Linked DNA regions of Homo sapiens: all the other regions are linked to region 1. Evidence: fine-mapped expression QTL. A gene starts in region 1. Each other region holds a variant in brackets. All regions are shown on one strand. Distances are between the middles of the regions.

What was found. PIP is the estimated chance that this variant, and not a neighbour inherited with it, causes the effect.
Region 2: its variant is fine-mapped to the expression of VPS9D1-AS1 in monocytes after R848 (Quach 2016, PIP 0.95).
Region 3: its variant is fine-mapped to the expression of VPS9D1-AS1 in tibial nerve (GTEx, PIP above 0.99).

The regions. Positions count from the first base shown.
Region 1 is chr16:89,710,531-89,713,278 of GRCh38, reverse strand. It overlaps VPS9D1-AS1 (VPS9D1 antisense RNA 1), which reads right to left and starts at 1,423. Exons shown (of 4, transcript NR_036480.1): 1 at 1,057-1,423; 2 at 461-590. VPS9D1 (VPS9 domain containing 1) reads left to right here. Exons shown (of 15, transcript NM_004913.3): 5 at 563-674; 6 at 757-819; 7 at 1,180-1,232; 8 at 1,310-1,397; 9 at 1,867-1,952; 10 at 2,269-2,693. RefSeq lists enhancers at 432-531, 2,029-2,592 and a silencer at 1,172-1,591.
Region 2 is chr16:89,061,178-89,063,925 of GRCh38, reverse strand. LOC105371411 (a long non-coding RNA gene) reads left to right here and starts at 96. Exons shown (of 3, transcript XR_001752336.2): 1 at 96-747; 2 at 2,297-2,416. The variant C/T (reference allele first, on the strand shown) is at 1,674.
Region 3 is chr16:89,732,126-89,734,873 of GRCh38, reverse strand. It overlaps ZNF276 (zinc finger protein 276), which reads right to left. Exons shown (of 11, transcript NM_001113525.2): 7 at 1,462-1,572; 8 at 1,317-1,392; 9 at 836-953. Among named protein-coding and RNA genes, the nearest start is that of ZNF276, 12 kb to the right of the region's middle. The variant G/A (reference allele first, on the strand shown) is at 1,224.

The DNA.
Region 1 (2,748 bases):
CGTCTCAAAAAAAAAAAGAAAAAAAGAAAAACCAAAAGTCCTGGCAATACCAAAACCTGTGTTTTCTTTCTTTTTGTTATTTTTTGTTTTGGTTTTGTTTTTTTGAGACAGAGTCTCACTCTATCACCCCAGCTGGAGTGCAGTGGCCAGATCTCGGCTCACTGCATCACCTCCCGGGATCAAGCTATTCTGCCTCAGCCTCCCGAGTAGCTGGGATTACAAGTGTGCACCATGCCCAGCTAATTTTTGTATTTTTAGTAGAGACAGAGTTTCACCATGTTGGCCAGGCTGGTCTCGAACTCCTGACCTCAGGTGATCCGCCCGGCCTTAGCCTCCTAAAGTGCTGGCATTAGAGGCGGGAGCCACTGCACCTGGCCAAAACCTGTGTTTTGGAAGGGCAGGCAAGAAGGGGCAGATGTTGCAGCCCACCCCAGATGGCTCCCCTCCTCTTTCTCCTCACCTCCTGGCCTCAGAGCAATCCGGGAGGATGAGAGAGACTCCTCTGGTGTCCAGACACCACTGGGCTTCCTGGGGTCTAGACAGCAGCTTGTCACATTTCCAGAGAGCTGACGCCACTGGAGGAGGCCTCCCTGCAGAATCAGAAGCTGAAGGCTGCGTATGAGGCCCGAATGGCGCGGCTAGACCCCAGCCAGGCCATGCAGAAGACATCCCTGGTGAGTGGGGGCTAGGGAGGGCCTGGGGGTGCGTGGGCGCGGGGCAGAGGGGAGTCGGCCTTACTCCCTCCTCCCCCCCCAGACCCTCTCTCTACAGCGGCAGATGATGGAGAACCTAGTGATTGCCAAAGCCCGGGAGGAGACAGCAGCCTTTCTGACCGCCCTGGTGGTCCCCGAGGGGAAACTCAGTGTGGCCTTGAGCCAAGGGCAGAGAAGGGGGCAGCGAGGGGAGCGGAGGTTCCGGGGTCGGGGTACAGGGCCGAGGGGCTCCCCGCTTTGCAGAGGCAGGGTCTCAGGGGAAGGCCCGGCCGCCGTCCCCCATGTTCTCTGGCCCGGCCCTCCTGGCTTGAGCGCAGGCTGCCTTCTGCCCCAGAAGCCTTACCTGGGGACAGCCCCTCACCGAGAGGAGGTCCCTGGGACGTCCCGGCCTCTCCGGGTGTGGGACGGGGTTGGGAACCGAGGGCCCGCTCAGATCCCACGCTCGGCCCCTTGACTCTGCACCCAGCTCCAGAGAAAGATGGAGGAGCGCCGGCTGCGGCTCCAGGAGGCCGCCAACAGGTGGGACTCCTGCCCGCCCCTGGGGCCGCTGCGGGGAGGGCCTGGCCCCGGCACCCACCGCGTGCCTTTCTCCCCAGGAGGTTTTGCAGCCAAGTCGCCCTGACCCCGGAGGAACGGGAGCAGCGGGCCCTTTACGCCGCCATCCTGGAGTACGAACAGGACCATGTGCGTCCCCCACGGGCCCAGGCTTTGTAGGAGGAGCCCAGCGAGGGGGGCGGGGTCAGAGCCGCCTGGGTGGGCCCCCGTGGGGGGCGGAGCCAGAGGCTGTGGGGGGCAGTGAGGGGGCGGGGCCAGAGGCCCGTGGGAGGGCCCGGTGAGGGGGCGGGGCCAGGGCTGCGTGGGGCGGGGCAGAGCGAGGAGGCGAGGTCAGGGGTCGCGTGGGAGGGTCCCAGCGAGGAGGGAGGGTCCCTGCGAGGAGGGAGGGTCCCAGCGAGGGTGCAGGCCCAGGGTTCGCCTAAGGTTTCCCTCGGGTGTGGGTGGGGGCGGGGGCGGGTCGCGGGGCCTGCTGGCGCTGGGTCTCCTGCACCCCAGGACGGGCTCCCACAGTCTCTAGGGGTCGGCACTGGTGGGAGATGAGGCGCGTCCGGTCGTGGCGGACCCACCGTGCTTTCCTTCAAGGCCCCCTGTCCCGTAGGACTGGCCGAAGCACTGGAAGGCCAAGCTCAAGAGGAATCCGGGGGACCTGTCACTCGTGACCAGCCTGGTCTCACACCTGCTCAGGTAGCTGGGCCTTCAGGCCCCACAGAGCCCCTGCGCACCGGCCTTGGGCACCTCTGCCTGGTGCCAGGTGCCGGAGAGGGGCTGGACTGACACAGGGAGCCTGTGCCCGGCCACGTGGACACTGCAGCTCCCTTTGCGCTGAGGGCGTTTCCTCGGCTTCTCCAACCTCCCCAGCGGGGGCGGGGGGCAGACTTTCCAACATTCACTGTCAGGAGGTAATGCAAGTCGCTTCTCTGAAACCGGGCATAGCGCGGCACCTGTGGATGCCACGGAGAGGCCGAGGCTGGCCGCGTTCTCACGTCCTCTTCTCCCGCAGCCTCCCCGACCACCCGATCGCGCAGCTCCTGAGGCGGCTGCAGTGCTCCGTGTACAGCGCCCTGTATCCCGCCGTGAGCAGAGCAGCCGCGCCAGCCCCAGGCTGCTGCCCCCCGACCCCCAACCCCGGAAGCCGACGGCTGCGGCCCTCGCAGAGCCTCCATTGCATGCTGTCCCCGCCCGAGCCCAGCGCAGCCCCGCGGCCCCAGGACAGTCCCCCCACGCCCCCACTCCAACCCGGCCCCGTGGGGTCTCCCTCACCCCTGGGGGACACCGCATCTGGATTGCCAGACAAGGACAGCTCGTTCGAGGACCTGGAGCAGTTCCTGGGGACGTCTGAGCGGCAGGGCCGGGGCCGTGGGGTACAGCCGGAGCCCCAGCTGCAGCAGCTGAAGACCGCGGTGGAGGAGATCCACAATGCCGTAGGTGAGGCCAGGCCCTCCCTGGGAGAGCCGCCGCAGCTCTTCACCCCTGCTTATTG
Region 2 (2,748 bases), 650 kb after region 1:
CCCAGCGGCTGGGAAACTCCCAGGGGCCGGGCCCTCCTCACCCAGTCTCCCTTCCTCCTTCTCTGGACTGGCCTGGCTGGACCACACCTGGGGCCGTGGCCACCTGTGCCCCCTTTTCTCAGCCTGTTCTTCTTTGGGCCTCCTGGGACACTCAAGCACCCCAGGACAAGTCAGGGCCAGCAGACTCCGCCTGCAAAGAGGGCCCCCATCGCAGAAGCCCTTGGAGACGTCAGCCCTTACGGTGCAGAGGGGAGATGGAGCCACCGTGCAAAGGATGCTCCAGCCTCACAGCCAGGAGGCTGGATAAGGCCGAGTGCACCAGGCCCTTGGGCAGCCCAGTGGGCAGAGCCCAGAAGAGGGGGCCACACGGCCTGGCCTAAGGAGCAGGGTGGGGACCCCGCACCAGGCAGACACCGTCAAGCCTCCTCATGCCCCCTTGGCCTTCCCTTACTTGTCTGGGGCTCCCTTCCTGCAATCAAAGAGCCCCTGGCACCTCCAGCCCTTGGGCCAGGGGACCTGGACCCCACCCCCATGCGTCCCTAGAAGCTAAAGGGACCCTGTGGAAGGGGGCTGGACTTAGGCTTCTTGCCCCCCAGGTAGGCATCAGGGGAGCAGGGCAGGTCAACGGCTGCTCAGAAGCCTGGCAGGGTTTGCAGGGCGTGGGCTGCCCCAAGCTCATCTGCACAGAGCGCTGACTTCCGGCCCCAGGACCAGAGCAGGAGACATGGCCGGGGAAGAAGAGCAAAGGTAGAAAGTGAAGTGCCGGCGGGGACGGGGGTGCTGGCCCAGGAGTCATGTGTGCTGGCCTGGGAGGGTAGAGAGCGGGGCGCCGGCGGTGGGGGCAGGTGGGGGTGCTGGCCCAGGAGGCAGTGCGCTGGCCTGGGAGGGTAGAGAGTGGGGTGCTAGCGGTGGGGGGCAGGTGGGGGTGGCCCAGGAGGCACGTGTGCCAGCCTGGGACCCAGGGGTTGTGGGACTGTCCCTCCAAGCCAGGGGTCCTGGCTTTGTCCTTGAATCAACTCATGCTGTCAGGAGCAGCCAGGCCGCAGGGGTCAAAGGTGACCACAGGCTCCAGCAGCTTTCCTGGGCCCAGAATCCCCGGTCCAGGATGGGCCTGGAGCGTGACCACCACCATAAGCCCCCAGACACACTTCATCCAGCCACCCTTGAGGGCGGGTCCCGGGTAGAGAGGGGCTCCCCGTTTCCCTTTGGGCCCTGTGTTTCTATGGGGGCACCCAAAACCCAGCGTTTTTTGGCTTCTCTGCAGGCCTCAGTGCATACCTTCAGCAGCCCCTCAAGCCCTCCCGCCCTGTCCTCTCCCCAGCTCCCACTGACCTCACTCCCTCCCCTGCCCCTGCAGCCCTCCTGCCGCCATGGCCGCCCCGCTCTGTCACCCTCCTCTTGTCAGAACCCATCCTCGTCCACAGCCCGTCCTTCCCACCGTCTCTGCTCTGGGCTCTGGGACCCTGCTTGGTCCCCGCCATGCCCCTTAATTGTGGGGTGTCTCAAACACTCCTGTGATTCTCACAGCCTTTTTGAGGCTGGGTGGTCCCAGACCCCCACCACCACCAGGAGACCCTGCAGCTCCTCAACCTCCCCTTGTCTGTGGGTCTCCATCAGCTTTGGGTCCTTGGGCCAGGTTGCCTCATTCCCATCACCCCGCCAAGCCTGGGCCC[C/T]GGGCTTCACCCCTCACCCCCTGCCCTACCTCGCTCCAGGCTGGACACAGCCATGCCCTCATGGGCTCCCCCTGCTCTGCTGATCCTGCTGTCTCCATGGCGATGGAAGCTTTGGAGAGCTGGGGCTGAGCCCCTGGAGGCCTAAGCTGGAGTTGGTGCACAGTCCCTCCCGGAAAACTGCAAGTTTCCCACTCCTTGTGGGGGAGCAGCAGGGCCCCTGTGTGGGCATGGATGAGGGGTTCCCACTCCTCGTGGGGGAGCAGCAGGGGTGAGGGGTGCAGGGACGGGGCCACCTTTGCAAGGAATCTCCCCACCCACCCTGGGGCTTCACGCTCCTCACCGTGGGGGTGGAGGCTGGAGGTCAGCATTTCCCCCAGTGCCCAGCATCCCTTCGCCCTTTCGGTAACCAGACCTTGAAAATCACTACGAAACTTCCTGGGTGCAGGTGGCCTCAGCTGTTAGCCCAGGGCCCTGGCAGGAGGCTGCTGGCCCGTCTGGCCAGGTGTTGGCCACTGGCCCGTGGAAGCCAGGGATTGGTTAGGGGAGCTGCTCCTAGCTGCTATTTTACTTCTTCATAGTTTTCGATCATAAGGTATTTTTCTCCTCTTAAAACTTCTCCCCAGGTGGCTCCTGTAATTCATTTGGGGGCGTGAGGTGAAGACGGGGCCAGCGCCCCTGGGGCAGCTGAGACCAGGGCGGGGAAGACCATAAATCAGGCAGGAGCCAGTGCCCGGTGCCCCAAGGTGAGCACATGGAGGGACAGTGACTGCTGGTCCTGGGAGCGAGCACAGAGCCCACGGGAAAGCGAGGAGCTCAGTAGGAAAGTGAGGAGCCCACCAGGAAAGCGCGGAGCCCAAGGGAAAGCGCGGAGCCCACTGGGAAAGCGAGGAGCCCACGGGAAAGCGAGGAGCCCAGTGGGAAAGTGCAGAGCCCGCGGGAAAGGAAGGAGCCCACGAGAAAGCGCAGAGCCCACGGGAAAGGGAGGAGCCCACGGGAAATCAGGGCTGCACTGCACACCAGTTCAGATGCTTCCAGTGTCCGCTGGGCGCCGGTCCGTCCCAGAAGAAGGTGGGTG
Region 3 (2,748 bases), 22 kb before region 1:
TTTGTCATTTTGAAAACATATCCTTGTTGGATTATAAAAGTAACTTGTGCATTATAGAAATTGTGAAAAATAAGACGGGCACAGAGACAGCACCCTCAGTCATAATTCCCCCATCCGCCTCCGGTCTTAATGACACGACCTACACACATGTGAAAAGGCAGAACCACACGTGCCTCCCGCCTGTCCACGTGGGCAGCTCCCCAGAGCTGGTGTGCCTTCATGCCTTCTGCCTTGCCTTTTAAGATACACTTGTTTGGGCCAGGTGCAGTGCTCACACCTGTAATCTCTGCACTTTGGAAGGCTGAGATCACTTGAGGTCAGGAGTTAGAGATCACCCTGGCCAACATGGTGAAACCCCGTCTCTACCAAAAATTACAAAAATTAGCCAGGCATGGTTGCGGGTGCCTGTAATCCCAGCTACTTGGGAGGCTGAGGCGGGAGAATTGATTGAACCTGGGAGGCAGAGGTTGTGGTGAGCCAAGATGGTGCCACTGCACTCCAGCCTGGGCAACAGAGCAGGACTCCGTCTCAAAAAAAAATTAAAAAATAAAATGACCAATTTGCAAAAGGACACCAAGATTGCTTGGCTATTAGTTTTGACAAACTGCCTAGATCCTGGGGAAGTCAGGAATTCCTTCCATCACAGGGAAGGGCAGATTCACACTGACGCCCTACTCTAGCCTTCATCTACCAACGTGACTGAGTACCAAAGACCCCATGAGCCACCTTCACGCACCCCCAACTCTTGGGGCGGGGATGGGTATGAGGAAGACTGGAAAGCAGGTCACGTGCCCCTGGCTGTCACCCGCGTGGGCGACACTGGCGATAGGCGTACCTGTGTGGATGAGCTTCACGTGGCGCTGCAGGTAGCGGTCGATCATGAAAACCTTGTTGCAGCCAGGGTGGGGGCAGGGCCGCTCCCGGACCTCCTCGTGGTGCTCCTTGATGTGCTTCTGAAGGAGAGACTCGGTGAGAGACCCTCAGAGCCGCACCCGGGCCACATGGCACGAGCCCTCAGTAGGTGACAGCTGAGGCCCCTGGAAGGCAGATCCAACTCCTCCTCCAGCGACACCACTGGCTCCTTCACAGCTTCACTCCAAGAAACTTCTAGACCCCCCGGGGGGTGTCTCAAGTGAAAGTCTGGCCTCACATCTACCCCCAAGGATGGCACTGGCTAGGACTGCTTCAGGTCTCGGTTAACCTAGGTCAAAGTGTCCTTGGGC[G/A]CAAGTCTGAGTTAGGCTGCAGAAACACCTGCTACCTCCCCCAGGTTCACACTGACAGCTGCCGGGCCTGGGTCAGGCACAGCCAGTGCTCACCTTCATGCCGTCAGCGCCTCGGTACACGGCCGTGCAGCCCTGGTAAGGACACTTGTAGATGGTGGGAAGCTCCTCCCTGCAATGAAGAGCATGCATGGAGCCCCGGCCCCGACAGGCAGGGCGAGCCTCGCGTTGCAGGCATCACCTCTCACAACGAAGCTTCTTCTTCCATCCGGGCTTGGGTCCCGGCTTCTTCCGAATTCTTGGTTCTTCAGACTTCTTGGCTTCTTTGCTTTCACTCTTCTTACCAGAGACTCTGAAAAAAAGAGGTTCCCAAATTCAATGGTTTCTGATCTCCATTTGCAAAATGTTTTTTGTCTCTCCAACCTGAGAAATGGTCTTTTCTGAAGCTTCCCTGAGTTGCTTCTGTGCTGACTGACCCTCAGAATCTACCTGAAGCCACCAAAGCCAGAGCAACTCTGGACAGGAGGCCTCAGGGGCGAGCACAGCAGAGGGCAAGGGCGCAGGACACAGCAGGGTCAGGGGTGAACACAGCAGAGGGCGAGGGCGCAGGGTACAGCAGGGTCAGGGCAAACACAGCAGAGGGCGAGGGCGCAGGGTACAGCAGGGTCAGGGCGAACACAGCAGAGGGGGAGGGCACAGCAGAGGATGAGGGCGCAGGGTACAGCAGGGTCGGGGTGAACACAGCAGAGGGCGAGGGCGCAGGGTACAGCGGGGTACAGCAGGGTCAGGGCGAGCACAGCAGAGGGCAAGGGCGCAGGACACAGCAGGGTCAGGTGAACACAGCAGAGGGTGAGGGCGCAGGGTACAGCAGGGTCAGGGTGAACACAGCAGAGGGCGAGGGCATGGTACAGCAGGGTCAGGGGCAAACGGCAGAGGACGAGGGCGCAGGGTACAGCAGGGTCGGGTGAGCACAGCAGAGGGCGAGGACGCAGGGTACAGGAGGGTCAGGGCAAACACAGCGGAGGGCGAGGGCACAGGGTACAGCAGGGGTGGGTTCTGAGAACTAAAGCTTCACCCTGTGCTACACATAAAACCCACAACTAGAGGTATCAGGACGGCAGAACAGGGATGTCCAAAGGACCACTCCTTTATCAAAACGACCTTACGCTAGGAAAAAGCTCAGAATCCACTCTCTCAAAATGGGTCAGCTTGATTCCAAGCTCAAGCCACCCAGGCAGGGCTTCAGAGGAACAGGTGATGCTCCCTGGGAAGCACACGGTGAGTAGCTGCCACCCCAGCATTCCTCAACCCCGCCTCCACTGCAGGGAGCCCAGCCTGTGTTCCTGGAGCTGCTGGCTGGGACCATGGTGGGCAGGAGACCTTGTCCTCCAAAAGTCTGGGGTCGTGCATTTTAGTTGGTCTGGCAAGTCCCTGAGGGACCAGCAAATGCAGCAGCTTCCAGTGTGCGTCTATCGGAGACTTAAAGAGAGAGACGCACTTGTGGTTCCTTTCTGGATCCAGGTAAGAA